Homo sapiens: one gene and its partner. The protein of the gene in region 1 purifies or fractionates together with the protein of each later gene. This does not show direct contact. Each region holds a gene or a part of one and is shown on either strand. Other genes may lie near its edges.

Region 1 (7,585 bases):
TTTGTAATTAAACTATTAAAGAAATGAAATTTGTAACTCAAAGTCTTCTCACAAAGAAAACTGAAGAATCAGATGGCTTTAATAACAAATTTACTAATCATTTAGGGCAGAAATAATTCTAATTTTATACAAATTATTCCACAGAATAAATAAACAGGGACCACTCTTTAACTCATTTATAAATCCAGGGCCAGGCATATGTTTGCTCACACCTGTAATCCCAGCACTTTGGGAGGCTGAGGCGGGCAGATCGCTTGAGCCCAGGAGGTGGAGGTTGCAGTGGGCCAAGATCACACCACTGCACTCCAGCCTGGGCATGAGAGCAAGACCCTGTCTTCGTTTTTTCTTTTCCTGTTTTTTTTTTTTTTTTTTTTTTGAGACGGAGTCTCACTCTGTAGCCCAAGCTGGAGTGCAGTGGTGCGATCTCGGCTCACTGCAACCTTCATCTCTAGGACTCAAGTGATTCTCCTGCCTCAGCCCCCCAAGTAGCTGGGACTACAGGCGCACCCCACCACACCCGGTTAATTTTTTTGTATTTTTAGTAGAGACAGGGTTTCACCATGCTGCCCTGGGTGGTCTTGAACTCTTGAGCTTAGGCGATCCACCCACCTCGGCCTCCCAAAGTGCTGGGATTACAGGTGTGAGCCACTGCGCCCGGACTTTTTTTTTTTTTTTAATGAGACAGAGTCTCACTCTGTCACCCAGGCTGCGGTGTAATGGCACTATCTCGGCTCACTGCAACCTCTGCCTCCTGAGTTCAAGCAATTCTCCTGCCTCAGCCTCTCGAATAGCTGAAGAGTCTGTCTTAAAAAGAAAAAAAAAGCCAGACGCACTGGCTCACGCCTGTAATCCCAGCACTTTGGGAGGCCAAGGCGGGCGGATCACAAGGTCAGGAGATCGAGACCATCCTGGCTAACACTGTGAAACCTCGTCTCTACTAAAAATACAAAAAATTAGCCAGGCGTGGTGGCGGGCGCCTGCAGTCTCAGCTACTTGGGAGGCTGAGGCAGGAGAATGGCATAAACCCGGGAGGCAGAGCTTGCAGTGAGCCTAGATCACGCCACTGCACTCCAGCCTGGGCGACAGAACAAGACTCCGTCTCAAAAAAAAAAGAAAAAAAATCCATAAATAAAAAGTACAGATAAAAAACATAAAGGGAGGAAATAAACATAATTAATAAATAAGAATACAAATGAATAAGAATAGTGGTTACCTTTAGGTAGGAAGGGAGGTTGTAATGGGAAAGGGCAGTCAGGTAGGCGTCTGTGGGTTGATAATGTTCTGTTTCTTGATCTCGATAGTTTTCAAGCATTTACTTTGTAATAAATCATTAAGATGCACATTTTTGTCTCATACACTTTGCTGCATGTGTAGTAGAACTCATAATAAAAAGTTTACAAGGCTGGGCGCGGTGGCTTATGCCTGTAATCCCAGCACTTTGGGAGGCTGAGGCGGGCGGATCACAAGGTCAGGAGATCGAGACCATACTAGCTAACATGGTGAAACCTCGTCTCTACTAAAAATACAAAATAATTAGCTGGGCGTGGTGGCGCGCACCTGTAGTCCCAGCTACTTGGGAGGCTGAGGCAGAAGAATCGCTTGAACTCTGGAGGCGGAGGTTGCAGTGAGCCAAGATTCTGCCACTGTACTCCAGCTTGGGCGAAAGCAAAACTCTGTCTAAAGAAAAATAAAAGTTTACAGTACTCACTCCTTATCCTCAGTACATATGTTTTAAGACTCCCAGTGGATATCTGAAACCACAAATAGTACCAAACCCTACGTACACCATGTTTTTTCCTCTAAATATATGCCCATGATAGAATTTAATTTATAATTTAGGCACAGTAAGAGACTAATAACAATAACTAATGATAAAATAGAACAGTTATAACAATATGTCAATCTTGCATTTGGGGTCACTATTAAGTAAGATAAAGGTTACCTGAACACAAGCACTATGATACCATGACAGTCGATCTGATAACCGAGTTGGCTACTAAGTGACTAATGGGCGGGTAGCATAGACAGTGTTGGATATGCTGGACAAGGGGATGAGTCATGTACTAGCCTGGATGGAGGGGGATGGTGTAAGATTTCATCAAGCTACTCAGAACGGCATGCAACTTAAAACTTATGAATTGTTTATTTCTGGAATTTTCCATGTAATATTTTCAGACAGAGGCTGACTGTGGTAACTGAAACCATGGAATGCAAAACCATAGATATGGGTGAACCGCTGTCTTTAAATTTATGGAACCAGTGTCACTTAATGAGAGAATGGTATAAATATTTGTTGACTCTCTTTCTTGGATTTAAGTACTTTTCTTAACCATATCTTTACTTACTCTAACAGGCTTACAACATCCTTTTCTTGGAAATTATCTTTTAGCAATTAATCTCTTTACTGTAGCTCTTTAGCTTCCAAGCTCTATTAACACCCTTTCACTGGAATCAATAGCTATAATTACTTTCCGTAGTAAGGGCATCTATTCTTGAATTGTCTATACTTCCTAACATGGGGCATTGTTTGTAGAACCCCAATTTTTTTTTTGAGATGGGGTTTCACTCTGTCACCCAAGGCTTCAGTGCAGTGGCGTGATTGCAGCTCACTACAGTCTCGACCTCCTGGACTCAAGCAATCTTCTCCCCTTGGTCTCCCAAGTAGCTGAGACAACAGGAAGCATCACCACACTCAGATAATTTTTATATTTTTTGCAGAGATGAGGTCTCACCACATTGCCCAGCCGCTAGTCCCAAACTCCTGGGCTCAAGTAATCCTCCCACCTCGGCCTCCCAAAGTGTTGAGATTATAGGCATGAGCCACTGTGCCCAGCCCAAACCCCAAAATTTAATTTTGTGTTGTAACACACAAAGATTAAGCAATAATTTGTATAACTGCAAGGTGTACAATATAAAGACAAAGCAAGTATATAGACTCATTGGGGACGAAATAAGCATCAGCCAGTTTTTCTGGGAATTTCCACATCTGCCTCCTATCATTGATTATTTTAATCTGTTTGTCTTCAGTTTTTGTCTACCCAACCCTAGTTCAAAACCCAGGCATCTGTCTAGAAAAAGCTTTCACAGTAACAGGAAATTTGATTTAGTGATAAGAAATATGAATAATCTTTTATTAAGACCAACCCATTATTTATTTTCTACAACTATACTAAAAGAACAGCTAAGTGAACACAGTTCAAATTATATTTTGATAGTAATTACAAAGCATATAGCTAACTATTGCTCCTATCTACCTTTCTAAATGCCTAAATGTTTCAACGTCCCCTGTAAGGTGAATAATAAGCATCAAAATATAGCAGATTAAAACAATTCTGCACCAAATTATGGTGACCCAGACTCTGGTCTACGAACTGTCATCAATTTGATAAACTTAAATAAAGGTAGTATTTTTATCATAAAATTTCTCACTTTTGGAACATGAGGATTAAATTCCACAGCTCTATGAATTGCTTCCACGGCATTAATTTCTGCTGTGCTTAATCCTCTTCTGGAGGCTGTTTCTGGAGAGAATCTACAAGAAAACCACAAAATGAAAAAATAAATATGCTAAAAAAAAGAAAAAAAGTATGAATTTAGATAATAATACAGCCCCTTGAATCAAAAGAAGTTTCTGGAGATGGCCAAAAACAAAGCCAGAGGACTAACAAAAAAAAAAAAAAAATTAAAGCTGGCCGGGCGCAGTGGCTCATGCTTGTAATCCCAGCACTTTGGGAGGCTGAGATAGGTGGATCACCTGAGCTCAGGAGTTAGAGACCAGCCTGACCAACATGGAGAAACCCCGTCTCTACTACAAATACAAAATTAGCTGGGTGTGGTGGTGTGTGCCTGTAGTCCCAGGCACACATGGGAGGCTGAGGCAGGAGAATCACTTGTACCCGGGAGGCAGAGGTTGCAGTGAGCCAAGATTGTGCCATTGCACTCCAGCCTGGGCAACAAGAGTGAAACTCTGTCTCAAAAAAAAAAAAAAAAAAAAAAAAAGTATAGTCTTGTGGGTTCAACATAGAAAAAACAAAGCAGCATAAGGAATGAAAGTCTTCAAACTTAGGTAAAGAAGGCCTTCAGGAGAAGTCCACTGAAGGTACACTTTAGGAAAGGTAATAAAGTAATAAATGCAACACAGTGATATCCAGAGAATCTCATGAAATAGCAGTACATTCTTATCAAATTCTTATTTGAGAGGACACAAATGGAAAATTCCATTCTAATTCATATCAAAGCATAAAAATCTAAGGTGAAAGAAAATGGCCACTATTTGGTTGGTTTCTGAGTATCTTACCTGCACAATAAAGAGAATTCACTAAGAGTAGCCAAAAATACAAGAAAAGCAGAAGAACTCAGAATTATACTCTAAGAAGAGATAACATAAGCCTATTTCCCTACTACACACTTTATCATCATCATCATAGTTACTATTTGGTGTGTGTACTTTCTTTCTAGATATTGCTTTAGGCACTTACCACACATAATCCTCCTACAACCCTCCTGCAATATTAGTCTCATTTTACAGATGAAGGAGAGACTCAAAATGATTAACTTGCCTACAGTCCTATAGCTAAAATGTGGTAGAGTTTGAATTTGAGCTCAGGTTAGCTCTAAAAACTTTGCTCTTTCCACTACACACAGCAAGAAGCCTAAAAGCCCAAGAAGATCCAGGGCTATTCAGAAGGAAGTAGAGTGGAAAACAGCATTGTTTAAAGTCAGTAGAGGACAAGCATAATACTGAGTTTAGCAGTCTTTCCAAATCATTGTAGTTTTTATAACACGTACTTTTCTGAAACAGTCCTTGTCTTCAACAGTGCTGCTGTGTAACAGATTGCTGCTGACTTTGGAAGGCTTATATCTGTAACGATAATTTTCAATTTAGGTAGGAATTACAAAAAAGGTATTGAGACAATTTTTTAATAAGAATAATTCACGGCCAGGCATGGTGGCTCATGCCTATAATCCCAGCACTTAGGGAGGCTGAGGCGGGTGGATCATGAGGTCAGGAGTTCAAGACCGGCCTGACCAAAATGGAGAAACCCCGTCTCTATTAAAAATACAAAAATTTGCCAGGCATGGTGGCGCATGCCTGTAATCCCAGCTACTCAGGAGGCTGAGGCAGGAGAATCGCTTGAACCTAGGAGGCGGAGGTTGCAGTGAGCCAAGATTGCGCCATTGCGCTCCAGCCTGGGCAACAAGAGTGAAACTCCGTCTCCAAAAAAAACAAAACAAAACAAAACAAAAAAAAGAATAATTCACAATGCAATGCAAATTCAATAGTTATATAGGAAAAACCTGGACGTGATGTTGAAAAATCTATAATATAGTAGGAAAAACCCGTATATGAAGTTGAAAAAGCTGAATCTGAATCTTTATCTTACTATTTACCAGCTAAGCATCTTTGAGCTAGTAGCAACTTGTTTGACCTCAGTTTTCACCTCTCAAAATAATGATATTTTCTGACCGAGATGAAATTATGTCTATGAAAGCCGTCTGCACAACGGTGAAATGCGTTCAACCAATGTCTACAATAACCTGCTTATGGACGGGCGTGGTGGCTCATGCCTGTAATCCCAGCACTTTGGGAGGCTGAGGTGGGTGGATCACGAGGTCAGGAGTTCGAGACCAACCTGGCCAACATAGTGAAACCCTGTCTCTACTAAAAATACAAAAAATTAGCCGGGTGTGATGGCAGGTGCCTGTAATCCCAGCTACTCAGGAGGCTGAGGCAGGAGAATCACTTGAACCTGGAAGGCCGAGGTTGCAGTGAGCCGAGATTGTGCCAGTGCACTCCAACCTGGGTGACAGTACGAGACTCTGTAAAAAAAAAAAAAAAAAAAACAATAAAAAAAAAACCTGCTTATAGTAAGTTCAGGGGAAAAGGCATGGTATAATTAGAACTATGTAAAACCTTCACCTATTCATAGAGAAAAACTAATATTAGAAAAAAATTAAAATATTTAACAGTAGTTAAATCCAGGTTGATTCAACCGAGGGTGATATTTTTCTTCTTCCTAGATTTATTTTTCTTAAATTATTATTTTTTAGAAAATAAAAATTTCATCTGGAACTGTAGGTAAATTAATTATATCAATCATTCTCAAAAGAATATCCAAAATAATGCTATCAGAAGATGTTTCTGATCCCAGAATCATACTAGCAAATGGAGAACTAAGGAAGTAAATTTGCTTTCAACTTCCTCCAGATTCTGGAATGGTAAAAACTGGGACTCATGAAAATAACTGAAAATACAGAAGCATATCAACTTAGATATGCTTTATTAGTTTTAGTTTTATTTTATTTTTAATGAATCAGGTCCTATTCCAGTTTGTTACATTCAGTCCCTAAGCTTGCTCATCATAAGTATTATAAGCAGGCCATGTATCCAGTAAGTTACATATGGAAAGAATTTCTCACAAATTTCTCCATGAGCCTACACTATTCTGAAGCATTGCTTAAGAATTCCAGATGTTTAAAAGAAGTAAACTTCTCTTTCCAAGTATAACACATTTCAAACTTCCCAAGTCATGGGGATTCCCAAGCAAATGGGTAGGAACCTATAACAGGACAAATGTGAATAAACGACCTTTTTCTTTGTTTTTTTTGTGAGATAGGGTCTCACTCTGTCACCCAGGCTGGAATACAGTGGTGCAATCTTGGTTCACTGCAACCTCTACCTCCCAGGCTCAAGAGATCCTCACACCTCAGCTTCCCGAGCAGCTGGGACTACAGGCGCATGCCACCACACCCAGCTAAATTTTTAAAATATTTTTTTTAGAAATGGGTTTTCACCATGTTGCTCAAGCTGGTCTTCAACTTCTGAGCTCAAGCAATCCACCCGCTTCAGCTTCCCAAAGGGTTGGAATTACAGGCATGAGCCACTGTGTCCAGCCTTCAATGTGACTTACATGTGTTCTCGTATAGTGAAAGATACCACCAGAAGCATAGTAACCCCAAATTTTCAGCTTGAGGTTAAAAGCTGATGCCTCTCTCAGGATAAGAAGGGAGGCTTTATGTCTTTAAAATTCTCCAAACTTCATGTGTGGTAAACTGGTATTGTTATAACATAATAATAAAAATAACTGCCAGGTGCGGTGGCTCACGCCTGTAATCCCAGCACTTTGGGAGGCCGAGCCAGGCAGATCATGAGGTCAGGAGATCGAGACCATCCTGGCCAACATGGTGAAACCTCATCTCTACTAAAAAAAATACAAAAAAATTAGCCAGACATGGTGGCAGGCACCTGTAGACCCAGCTACTCGGGAGGCTGAGGCAGGAGAATGGCGTGAACCTGGGAAGCGGAGCTTGCAGTGAGCCGAGATTGCACCACTGCACTCCCGCCCAGGCGACAGAGTGAGACTCTGTCTCCAATAAAAAAATAAAAATAACCAATATATATTGAATTGTTACCATGGAAAGACTAATGAACTAAGAAATCAAACACCTGGATTTGCCTTTTACTGGCTGGGAGACCTTACTCCAATACTTTAACCTTCTTAAATTCCAGTTCCCTTATTCAGTTAATTGGAGACAGTAAAAATACTTGTCCCACAACATCATAAGACTATTATAACGATCATAT
Region 2 (7,585 bases), about 87 Mb from region 1:
TTGGGTACTATGTTCACTGTCTAGGTGATGGGATCAATAGAAGCCCAAAGCTCAGCATCATGCAATATGCCCTTGCAACAAACCTGCATATGAATGCACGTGTACCTCCTAAATCTAAAATTAAAAAAAAAAGGAGAGATCAGTTTTATCGCTAAAGCATCCCTGGGGAAGTTTGTTGGCCTGAAACTGTGCACCACCCCAAGTATGCCTGCAGAAGCAAACAGTGCATGTACATACTGTCAGCCCTGTATGTTTGCATCAGAAGGGGTCTTAGAGACTGCTGAGTCCAGGCTGCTCCATCTGGATAACAAACCCACTCTCTAGCTAACAACTCAAACATGTCAGGTTTGAATCAGTCACAATCTTATTGACATGGATCAAAACATACATGAAGTCAAATGAGGAAACAGAGGCGACGGCTAAGGAAGGGTGGGAGGAAGTAAGATAAGACCTCCTCCAACCAAGCTGGATAATCTGCTCAGATAGAGGCTTTTCCTTTTAAACTCTTTCATTGCTGTTCATCATAGAAAAATGTGAAAATGTATGAAAATAAAAAGAAAAAATAAATGCCCAATACTATCAAGGGATAACAACTATTGTTAACAATTTGGTTATTTTCCCTTTAAATCATTTTTCTATGTATATTAGAAAAAATTGTTTTTCATTAAATTGCTTTCTCCTTTATTCATGAAATGCTTTGACATACTTCCCCATATTCTTTAATATGGCTTGAAAGTATGATTTTATAGTATCTATATGAAAAGTTTATCAAATGGATGGACCATAATTTATTTTAAATTTCTCCCATTATTGGATATTTACATCACCCTTTTTTTTGAGGGGGGGGAAGGAAGAGAACCAACATTTATTGAATGCCTGTACCTTAACAACAGCACTATTCTATTAGTTTTATCTCAACTTTCCAAGAAATGGAAATCAGAGGGGTCAAATAATATGCCCAAGGCCACTCAGACAGTAAATAGAAGGTCCAGGATCCAACCAAGGTGTGATTTAAAAACCTATATTCTTTGCATAGTATTCTTTATTTTATTTTATTATTATTATACTTTAAGTTTTAGGGTACATGTGCACAATGTGCAGGTTTGTTACATATGTATACACGTGCCATGTTGGTGTGCTGCACCCATTAACTCGTCATGTAGTATTAGGTGTATCTCCTAATGCTATCCCTCCCCCCTCCCCCCACCCCACAACAGTCCCCGGAGTGTGATGTTCCCCTTCCTGTGTCCATGTGTTCTCCTTGTTCAATTCCCACCTATGAGTGAAAACATGTGGTGTTTGGTTTTTTGTCCTTGCGATAGTTTGCTGAGAATGATGGTTTCCAGTTTCATCCATGTCCCTACAAAGGACATGAACTCTTCATTTTTTATGGCTGCATAGTATTCCATGGTGTATATGTGCCACATTTTCTTAATCCAGTCTATCGATCCCCTTATTTTTTATAACATTAAAAGTTGAAAATAATACCATGGGAGCTTATAAACCTACTTAAATATAATGTTGTCTATTAGTCATTTGATAGTAAGTAGTTCTCCAAAACAGAGTAATACCTGGGACACTGTAGGTCAAGGCAGAGTACGCATTAGTGACCACAAGAAGCAGCATACTCCTTAGGTGTAGGCACGGGGGCACTGGACCCATGTCATCATCTCCAGCTTACTGGACAATTAGCCATCTGGGTCCTTGAACTTCTCTACTAAAAGCAGATCAGATAGTAGAGTCAATCAATATCACAAACCATCATTTAGTAATAGCTTGACCGCTATTACTAAACTTGTGTCAGCCTGGGCAACATGGCGAGATCTCCTCTCTACAAAAAAATTAAAAAATTAGCCAGGCATAGTGGCATGCGCCTGTAGTCCCAGCTACACAGGAGGATGAGGTGGGAGGAAAACCTGAGCCTGGGGAGGTAGAGTCTACAGTTAGCTGTGATCACGCCACTACACTCAAGCCTGGGCAAAACAGTGAGATCCTATCTCAAAAAAAAAAAAAAACATGTGTAGGAGAAAGGATGGTAAATAGCTGTGACAGATGTTTTGTGTATAGCATTTAGTGAATTTGTGGGATATTCCTCTGAAATAGAAGGTAAACTAATTGGTCTTTCTCCCATGGGCATCTGGAGGAGAGTTCTCTTCCACGTGTTTTTTCTGCTGGGCACAATGGCCAGAATGTCCTAACAAATGGATATGGATGCCAGCCAGGCAACAGCAAATAGCACACTTCCAAAAGTAGCCTGGGGGCTGTGAAACCTCTAGAGCCTGTATTAGTAGAACCCAAATATACCTCGCTTAGTTTAACTGCCAATCAGAAAATTAAAACAAATTAATAATCTAGTTCATACCATTTATAATGCTGGAAAGCCTCCCTCCTAGAATAAACGGACTGCCTAAAGGGCTGCCTAAAGCAAGCCAGAGAAAGAAGAATATAACTTACTGGAAGGGGAGAGTTTCAATTGCCCTCTTGAGTTACATACACACAAAAAAGCTCCAGTTTAGATCTCAGTTTCCAAATTAAAGATCTGAGGTGAAAGGAACATATTTGTGTTTGCCTAACATAAGCCATATAAAATATAGTAAAATTAAGTCTGAGCCAGTCAATGTAATAAAACAATGTTATTCTTTTATGGCCGGGCACGGTGGCTCACATCTGTAATCCCAGGACTTTGGGAGGCCGAAGCAGGTGGATCACCTGAGGTCAGGAGTTTGAGACCAGCCTGGGCAACATGGTGAAATCCTGTCACTATTAAAAATACAAAAAAATTAGCCTGGCGTGGCGGCAAGCACCTATAATCCCAGTTAGTTGGGAGGCTGAGGCAGGAGAATCACTTGGAGCCAGGAGGCGGAGGTTGCAGTGAGCCGAGATCGTGCCAGCCTGGGCAATAGAGCAAGACTCCGTCTCAAAAAAAAAAAAAAATTCTTTTAATTAAAATGAGAAAAGCAACATTCCTAATTAAACTTTGTGTCTAACACTGTTTCTCCATGGATTTTTGTGAAAGAGATTGCTTTTCAAATCTAACTTTCCCAGAGTTATCTAGGATAATTCATATTCTAAGTGCAGAAAAACAAACAGAAAAACAAAACAAGCACAAAGTAGTAAGGACAACTTTCTCACCCCTCTCCTGCAATGTATATCTGTTTGACAGAGATTTGCGTGAACAAGCACAAACTCTTCTTTTTGTGTTTACGCCAAGAGAACTCTGGACATGCAAACAGAAAAGGACAAGGACCAAAGAAGTGCCTTACAACACGACTAGAAGAATCAAGTTACAGGTCAATTTGTCACATGTGGGAAGTAATCAGTGTCACTCATTATTCAGAACACTGCAAAGAGCTGAAATCAATGCTTCAACACAATAACACAAGGTGGCCAACAAACTCATGTAAAACACCACACGTCACTAGTCACAATATCTGATTACAAACAATCCCTACAGGCCCATATGGGAGTATGTCAAGAGTATGTCAAGTTTACTGGAAAGTGTTAGTAAGGATGCAGCATGTGCACTTACCTGACCAGTGCGTCTGGTTTGCTTAGCTGGTTATTAGGAATACAGTTTTCCATTAAGTCCTTGTGTGTACTTGGGCTCTTGCTAGTGCATTTCTGCTTCTTCTCATTTTTACTAGATGAGGAAGGAATGCTCCCATTTGTGGCGCTATGACTTCGAGGTGAAGAGTTCACAACTCCACTGGCATTTTTGTAATTTTTTGAGGAAGCAGTGCATGAGTCCTCTTTCAAGAGATTTTCTGTACTTCCCACAAGATCATTATTTAATCTTTTACTATTGATATGGTTTTCCATATACTCAATCTCTTGTATTTTAGAGTCTACAGGTTGTAGAATATTGTTGTTATTTATTCCAAGGTTGTGTTTTTTGGCATCCTTGTCCTTTTCTTTCCCTTTTTCTCGGTATTCTATCTCTGGCAAAGTTGTGGAGAGTTTTTTGTTGGCTGGGATACCTCCATTGTGGTGTATAAGGATCGAAGAATCCATATCAGGTAATCCTTTGGCTGCTACAATACCAAAAACAAACCAACAAACAAAAAGCCCCCACCGGAATATTTAGTTGTTTAACAACACAGATTAATTCAACAAACTATTATCTACACTTAAGAAATTCACATTAGTTTGCACACTCATTATACGCTAATCAAGAAGCAAATCCTCATAGTTTACTAGAAGATGTAGGAAAAAATAGAAGAAAATCCAAATACATTTGAGAAACTCTACATTTAGAAAATCATCATCATTTATGAAAATGATGGCCACTAAAGGTCTAGTCTTGAAAACAAGATCAGGGTTTTATAATTAGGTCACACTTTGTGTATTAGTCAAATCAAACTCGCCTATCACTGAGGTGAGAGGACAAAGGCAGATCCTAAGAAGTCATATTTTTTTAAGTGCCTGGAGTAAACGAACTGTTAATAACTTTACTGAAAAGAAAGAGGTTAAATGAAACAAAAGAAGAGGAATAATTTTAGGATACAGGACATCTATCCTTTTTCTGGACTCTAGTGTTGAGGTAATAAGGAAGTCTGTATCATTTACCAGACCACTCAGAAAGAATTTTGTGTATTGGGTCTACACATTCCAATTTATTAAGGTCTACTTGAAGAGATATTTTTGCACCACATCACACAAAAAGAAAATTTTGAAATATATTAAATAAAAACATGACCTCAAACTTTCAACTTTCAAACCAATGGAAACTAGCTACTGCCAATTATCTATTTCTATTGGTCAAATGCCCATGAGAGAGATTCCATTAGAAATGGTTCAATTTAAAATCTGCATTACATTATATGAAGCATTTAGAACACGACCTATCCATCTTGGCTCTATTCAGAAGACATCTGGCTTCTGAAGTTCAATTCTACATGTCTACATCTCCATTGTGCTTATACTTTGGTTCTTGGCTTGCTTCAATTACCAGTTCACATAGTTCCATAGTATTTTGTTGCTGAGAATATATATTTTAAAATACGTAAAACAGGCTGGGCATAGTGGCTCATGCCTGTAATCCCTACACTTCAGAAGGTGGAGGTGGGAGGATTGCTTGAGATCAGGAGTTTGAGACTAGCCTGAACAACACAGTGAGACCTCATCTCTACAAAAAAATAATTAAAAAAAATTAGCCAGGCATGGTGGCACGTGCCCATGGTAGCAGCTGCTCAGGAGGCTGAGGAGGGAGGATTACTTTGCTCCCAGGAGTTTGAGGCTGCAGTGGTCCCTAACTGTTATCACTGCACTCCAGCTTAGGCAACAGAGTGAGACCCTCCCTGTCTCAAAAAACTAAATTTAAAAAAAAATCAGAATTAAAATATAAAAAAGATATAAATATATTTTAAAATAATAAAATAAACATATTTAAACACATAGTCTTCAGACAGTATGTAAAAAACTTCATTCACCATCTGTATTTCATTGACCAAATAAAACAATGACCCTGAGGAGGAACACCATTAGACAGAAAAAAACAAAATCCTAGCTACTTTTCCAGAAAAGAAAATTCTACCAAGAGACAAAATAATGACTAGCCTATTGAGCCAACAGCTTTAGGGTAAAGACCTACCTTCCTCGGCCTCTTTTTCTTGCTTCTGTAGCATCTGTTGCTCTGGAGGGAGAGCTTGTTGAAGAAGTTGCATGTAAAACTCGTTCTCTTTTTGTACTTCTTTTTGCTTCCTTAACCGCATTTTGTAGCTTACGTAACTTTTGAAGCCAAACCCCAAAGTTACCACAGGGTACCCAATACTAGAAAGAAGACAATCCAGCCAGTAATTGTAGGTTTAAAATGAACCACATGTGCCTCAAGCACATGAGAATACCTATGGCTTAAAAATTAAAAATAAATTCTAATTGATGATGGTAGTTGAGAAGAGCATTCACTAGACACACAAATAAATGTAATGTCTACTGTGGAAATCAGAAGCAACTGGCACACAGAACAAAACCCCCAGGAACAACAGGACTGCTAGACCGTAAGACGACACTTCCCATTAGACGTTGGCATTCTTCAAATTAATTCAAGGAGTCACCACAGTGACTGTCAGATACAGTGGCTAATAATGCCTTTGAAGAAATATTGAAGAAACTGCCTTATGCATTAGAACTTAGGCAGATACCTGTACCCTTTTTTTTTTTTTTTTGAAATGGAGTCTCGCTCTGTTGCCCAGGCTGGAGTGCAGTGGTGTGATCTCGGCTCACTGCAACCTCCGCCTCTCGGGTTCAAGTGATTCTCCTGCCTCAGCCTCCTGAGTAGCTGGGACTACAGGCCTGCATCACCATGCCCAGCTAATTTTTGTAATTTTAGTAGAGACAGGGTTTCACCATGTTGGCCAGGATGGTCTCGATCTCTCGACCTCGTGATCCACTCGCCTTGGCCTCCCAAAGTGCTGGGATTACAGGTGTGAGCCACCACGCCTGGCCTGTATGCTTTTAAAAACTAAAAGGGTAGAGACTTTACAGGTAGCCAAAAGTAAACATAAGTGTTAAAAAAAAAAATCACAAGGACATCATTTGATTTTCAATACTAGAAGGCAGGGTCAAATTCAGGTGACTAATTTAATCTTCTTGCTGCCTGAGGGGTACTGTCACCAGCTATTCCTTGAAGATTGGTTCACAAACACTCTGTCATATATAAATTCTGTCATACATAAATTCAAGAATCATTTAAATAAGTATCCGATATGATCAGTGCCAAGATTTGGTTTGTATCACCAAATTAAACCAGCTGTACTTAGAACTCTAATCTCTGGGATAGAAAGTTAAATATTTTCATTGAACTTACCAGCCTGCCTAACATCATTTCAAAGCCTCTGCAAACACTGTCAAGCCCATATAAGTTTCACTAACATGAAAATGTATCAATTTATAATTAGTCTAAATGTGGTCTCACTACAAACTTACGGTGACATGTTTTACTGACCAAGTTCATTTAATTTACTTGTTTGTAAAAAGACTAAAAATACTGGAAACAGTATTTTTTTAGTTGATTACTGTTTATTTTGGTTTCTGCCATAAATATTAGTAAAAATTGGTGTGTTTAGGAGAAACATACATTAGGTGGTAAGTTCCACAATAGATCTAAATAAGAACCAAGCTCATTTTTCAAAAATGTTTCATGGTTAAGATTAAATGAATAATATCTTAATATTCATTAACATAAAGAGAAATAATATTCATTCAAAAATTATTAATAATATTCTCTTACTTTTATAAATAGGCTAAGGAAATTCTAAATTATTTTAAGTTTCATGAATTAGCCATATATTTCATCAAGACCTTCTGGAATCATTACCTGATTATAATAAACATAGCTAACATTCATCAGACACCTATGTGCTTGGCATTAAGTTGAATACATGTATCACTTCAGTTCCTTTTTCCCATGACCCAGTGAGGCAGGTAAGAAAACCATGGCTTAGAGGCAGTGACAAGGCAACACAAGCTGTCAGAGGACAGAGCTGGGATTCACTCATCTGCCTGAAAAGGGGGGGCTCATGGTCTTTCCAACCATGCTGTACTGCTTTCTGGATCCATGTAAAATTTCTAAGAATAAATTTACAGT

Evidence for each region. Proteins that work in one complex are often made in the same cells at the same time.
Region 2: the proteins of ST7L (region 1) and MACO1 purify together in Homo sapiens (co-immunoprecipitation; 2 studies listed by BioGRID and IntAct, with this or other methods). This does not show direct contact.

What each region holds. Positions count from the first base shown.
Region 1 is NC_000001.11:112,573,557-112,581,141, forward strand, and holds part of ST7L (suppressor of tumorigenicity 7 protein-like), read right to left. Parts: intron 5,821-7,585; exon of another isoform or gene 5,751-5,820; intron 4,862-5,750; coding exon 4,789-4,861; intron 3,533-4,788; coding exon 3,430-3,532; intron 1,678-3,429; coding exon of another isoform or gene 1,570-1,677; exon of another isoform or gene 1,558-1,569; intron 1-1,557.
Region 2 is NC_000001.11:25,454,837-25,462,421, reverse strand, and holds part of MACO1 (macoilin), read right to left. Parts: intron 5,770-7,585; coding exon 5,591-5,769; intron 4,032-5,590; coding exon 3,530-4,031; intron 1-3,529. UniProt on the Homo sapiens protein: Plays a role in the regulation of neuronal activity.